2 separate regions of the Homo sapiens genome follow, and region 2 is linked to region 1. The links come from fine-mapping of genetic effects on gene expression. A gene starts in region 1. The other region holds a variant in brackets. All regions are shown on one strand. Distances are between the middles of the regions. Region 1 holds the start of LRGUK (leucine rich repeats and guanylate kinase domain containing). Region 2 has its middle 58 kb from the start of LRGUK.

Region 1 (2,500 bases):
GCGTGAACCCGGGAGGCGGAGCTTGCAGTGAGCCGAGATCGCGCCACTGCACTCCAGCCTGGGCGACAGAGCGAGACTCCGTCTCAAAAAAAAAAAAAAAAAAAAGAAAAACGATCGAGATTTGCATTTTTACACTTTCTGCCTGATTCTTCCCTATGTCACTTAGCCGAAGCCAGGCCCTACGAGGGTAAGGGTGGGGAAAATTCCCTTGGAGGAATCTCTACTTATTGGAAAAAGAAATAAGCAAAAAGCAAGATGAGCCTGGCAGAAAGAGATATTTTGCTTGTGGCCTTTACATTTATGACTAGCAAGATAATGAAGGAAGGTAATTCTGAAAGCTTTATGTCAGTTTTAACGGTCCCTCAAGCACTGAGAAAGATAATCGTCAATGGATGGTGTCCATAAGGATTTTTTCTCCTTCTCCCCTGACAGCCATTGACAGGATCATTTTGTATTTGCAACTGCTGTCATTGAAGCGTGCAGAAAAGGCCCTGTAAGGCCAGAAGGATGAGGGCTACTTCCCTGCAAGGATCTCTATTGTCATCACTATGGCAATAATAGTTACTATAATTTTCATTCTGCTTTTCTATAGAGTGTCGACGTTGTGGAGCTTAAGGCTATGGGATTTGGGTCACATAAAATCACACTAGCATAAAATCGTGCTTTGTTATCTTGAAAGAGTATTTTTTTTAACTGCAAAGAGAGCCTGTGCAACAAGATTAAAATAATTGCCAATGCAGGTCACTTGACTAATATAATTATTTATGGGATGCTAATAGCTTTTCAGACGCTTTCAGATACAGTGTCAATTTGACAGCAGTTTTTTCTCTCTCTGTTTGGATTGTAAGACCACTGCCAGTTTTTCTCCCCAAGGACAAGGCTTATCATTGGGGGGTGGGGGTGGGGAATGTAAATTAATTGGAAATCAGCTCTCAGGCGTCGTCTGGTAGTTTCTCTTTATTATCTGCAATTAAATCATAAGGACAGGAACCATGCCTTCTATTTCACTTATATGCACCCTCATCTCCTAGCGTCGCGCTTTGCATAAATTTCAGTGGTACTAGCTTTCCTACAGACTGCTTTAGAGACATTAGACACTTCTAAAGTACGACTCTGCGGAAAGAGCCCTTTGGGAATGAAGCGGCAACGGTGGCGCACCTGCGATCCTATCGTGGGATGACAAAGCTCTAAGAGGGGTCTCAGGGTAGGGAGGAAACAGCTGGAGACAAAGAAAGGGGGTGTAGCGAAAAGAGGTGAAAACAGGAAAGATAAGCGAACAGAACAGACCAAAGAGAGAAAAATAACAGAAGAGACTGAGAAAAAGAAAAGTCAAGTGGAGCGCCCACTGCCCCGCCTGCAGAAGGCGAGTACGCGCGGAGGAGACTACAGGCCCCAGAATCCTCCGCGGTTCCCCTTGCCTGGGGTCAGTCTCCTAGGCAACCCCGCTAAACAAGATGGCGACCTCCGAGAGGGCTCTCCTGAGGACCAGAGCTGCCTCTCTCCTGAGAGGCTTGGGCAGATCCCGAACTGGAGCCCGATCGTTACAGTTTCGCGCAGAAAAAGAGCGTCAGCCTTGCTGGTCTTTTCCCATGGGGCAGAAGACGAAAGGCAGCTCTAACATAGCCTCCTCCTACCTGCTCCAGCAGCTCATGCACCGCTATCAGGAGCTGGACTCGGACGGAGATGAGGACCAGGGCGAGGGCGAGGCGGGATCCGAGGAGTCCTCAGAGTCCGAAATGCTGAATTTGGAGGTGTGTCTTCCCCCCCACCCCGTACTCCCTGGCTCCCTCGTCCAGCCCTGTTACTTCAGCGGCAGCTCCCCGATGCACCCCCACCAGCCCGAAGCTTCCCACACCTTCTCAGGCTCTCTCGCCTCCAGGAACGCCTCTTCCCCCTCTTTTCTTCCCCTGTCTTTTACCCCGTTTTCTCACCCCCTGCCTGAAATAGCTCTAAATAGTTCCTTTCTTTTTTCATTAACACATTTGATTTCTTATGAGTCGAGTTAACACAGCGTCACTTTGTAAGAGTGTCTAGATAATTGTCTGGGAATTATGGCTTTAGCTTTTTCAAAATTATACTTTGACAGTATTGTGAATAGGCAGAGTTCATCTCTGACATTGCCAGCACCTGTTGCCCATGGCTATGACATACTTCCACACTCTTCCTCAGTTCTAGTCCCGTCAGCCTCCCTCCAGGAAAAAAAAAAAAAAAAAAATCCGCTTTTGAAAGTGCTTCTTCAAAGACTAAGTGACTTAAAAGTTGAATACATTACTTCTGTCGGGGGCATATGCCTTATACAAGCAACATGCACACACACCAGAAAAGAGCCTTATAATGTTCGAACAGCCAGCTCATTGTGGGAATATTTTAGGATGTGGGGAATGTTCCCATCATCCCACCCATATTGACTGGGATGGCGGCTTCGCGTTTCACATGACTGCCATTCCCTCCTTTCTACAATATCTCTTCTGACCACCACACAATTCCTCTTCTTTCTTAT
Region 2 (2,756 bases), 58 kb before region 1:
CTTCCATACCCAAGGGCCCAGAAACTACTGAAAGAATCTCTTTCAAGTTAGCCTTCGTTGGAATAAATTCCTTGAAAAAGAGGTAGTTCATCAGCTAGGACCCAACTCTTATATATATATATACACACACACACACACACACACACACACACACACACAGGCAATTGTGTTCTTGGAAGTGCTGGTGGTGGTTTCTTCTATATTTTTGGTTACTTTTAGCTATATATTATTGCCTGTCAGTATACCTTCCAATTTATAAATGAAACTACTCTTTGGGTGATATTGTGCCCCTTACCCCACAAGCACTTCTTTCTACCTGCTCTATTAATACAGGTTCTTTCAGGGTCTCTCATCCTAGGCGGTGTTTTTATTCCTACCTCACAGTAGGGCTTTGAAATCTTACTGCCCAACTAGAACATTTTCCCCCTCCACACTGATTTCATCCCAATAATTAGACAAGGATTGGTTCCTCAGGTTGCTCTTGCTGGTTAAGGACAAGTCCTGCTTCCAGGCTCTGAAAGACAAGTTTATTTTTTAGTATGTCCAGATCAGCTCAAGTTTAGTGGTAAGACCAGGCCTGAGCTGCTACAGCCCATACTCTTGAAACCCATCCTCTTGAAACTCTTGACACCACACTGGAAACCTTGTGAAAAGCCTCTGCTTTTCATGACCTTTCCTCCTTGTTTCTGACCTACTTGAGGAAAGGAGCTGATACAGTTTGGCTGTGTCCCCACCCAAATATCATCTTGAATTGCAGCTCCCATAATCCCACGTGTCAGGGGAGGGACCTGGTAGGAGGTTAATGAATCATGGGGGTGAGTTTTTCCAGTGCTGTTCACATGATAGTGAATTAGTGTCACAGCATCCAATGGTTTTATAAAGGGCAGTTCTCCCACACATTTCTCCTTGCCTACTGCCATGTAAGACGTGACTTTGCTCCTCCTTCACCTTTCGCCATGATTGTGAGGCCTCCCCAGCCATGTGGAACTGTGAGTCCATTAAACCTCTTTTTCATTATAAATTACCCAGTGTCAGGTATTTCTTCATAGCAGTATGAAAATGGACTAATATAGGGGCTGTATCTTGCCCATCCTTAGGTACTATTACTTCTATTACATTACT[A/G]CTAATCTGGTGGGATCCTCTTCCAGCAGTTACTGCCCTCTGCAGAGTAACCCCATTCCAAGAAGCCCCACCCTCTCTCCAAGACTTTATTCTTGTCTGAATGTTTTCTGAGCCCGACGGTCCTTATTTATGTTTCAAATAGCTTGGGAGGAAAAACTCCAATACAGACAACTTGAATTGGCAACCAAACCCTAATGCTACTTACTGTCAAGTCATATCCGTGAATTTCGTAGCACTAATGCATTCATTCAGTCAGTCAAATAGAATTGCCTGTTACAGCTCAGGTTGATATGGGAGTCGGGCAATGACAGGCAAAAGAAACAGCCCCTTGTGACACAAAGCTTATACTTCCACTGGCTTCTTACAACTCCTCTCTGATCTACCCTTCCCAGAGTCCATATTTCCCCTCTCGATTCTCTGTGACCACCCTTTCATTTAGGAAGACAGCTCAAATTTCAGCCTGACTCTGTGCACTCTCTTCTGAGCTTTGCTTCTCTGGAAGCTTAGGACTCTCACGATCCACTGTGCCCCACTAGCTAGCACACCTAGCAGTTCACCCTTTACCAGTTCTTCTTCTTCTTCTCCTTCTTCTTCTCCTTATTCTCCTTATTCTCCTACTTCCTCCCTCCTCTTCTCCTCCTCCTTCTCCCCCTCATTCTCCTCCTCCTCCTTTCTTCCTTCTCCCCCTCCTTCTCCTCCTTCTCCTCCTCCTTCTCCTTCTTCCTCCTCCCTCTTCTCCTCCTTCTCCGCCTCTTCTCCCCCTACTTCTCCTTCCTCCTTCCTCCTCTTCTCCTCCTCCTTCTCCTGCTCCTCCTCCTTCTCCTTCCTCCTCCATCCTCTTCTCCTCCTTCTTCTCCTTTCTTCTTTCTTCTTCTTTGAGACAAGGTCTCACTCTGTTGCCCCGGCTGGAGTGCATTGGCACCATTTCAGCTCACTGCAACCTCTGCCTCCTGGGTTCAAGCGATTCTCACACCTCTGCCTCTCAAGTAGCTGGAACTACAGACCATGCCCAGATAATTTTTGTATTTTTAGTACAGATGGGATTTCACCATGTTGGCCAGGCTGGTCTCAAACCCCTGGGGCTCAGCCTCCCAAAGCGCTGGGACTACAGGCATGAGCCACCACACCTGGCCCCTTTACCATTTCTTGATGGAACTAATGGATTCCCACCCCACAGCCTTTATGAATGGACTGAGGCCATTGAATTCAGGATTCTTACTTTGGTGTGTAGCTGTGGCTGCCTCCCTAGGACCAGGGCACAGAAATTTCACAGTAACCAATGAGAGAGACCAGGGGCCAGCTCCAAGCCAGAGTCATTTCATTCAGGGCAGATGTGATCAGAAGACCAGCCAAGGGGCTGTCCCTCTAGCAGGATGTGAAAACAAGGAGAGTCCTGGTCAACACAATTTTGCTTGGAAAGCAAAGTGGGTGCTGAAATACCTACACCTGAGAGCGATTGTCTTAATGTGGCAGGAATGTAAAACAAATTGGACATAATTTGGAGGGAGGGTAATGAGGTACCACGAACAAGAAAACATAAAGAATCACTAGGCTCGGCAAGGTGTCAACCCTGTCCTAATTAGGCACAGTTGTTATAAGAAGTACATAATTAATAAGCGTGTGACCAGATGTGA

The links.
Region 2: its variant is fine-mapped to the expression of LRGUK in breast (GTEx, PIP 0.90).

The regions. Positions count from the first base shown.
Region 1 is chr7:134,125,914-134,128,413 of GRCh38, forward strand. It overlaps LRGUK (leucine rich repeats and guanylate kinase domain containing), which reads left to right and starts at 1,427. Exons shown (of 20, transcript NM_144648.3): 1 at 1,427-1,751. The coding sequence starts at 1,455. RefSeq lists enhancers at 1,280-1,329, 1,440-1,709.
Region 2 is chr7:134,067,517-134,070,272 of GRCh38, forward strand. It overlaps a transcript of EXOC4 not described here. Among named protein-coding and RNA genes, the nearest start is that of LRGUK, 58 kb to the right of the region's middle. The variant A/G (reference allele first, on the strand shown) is at 1,123.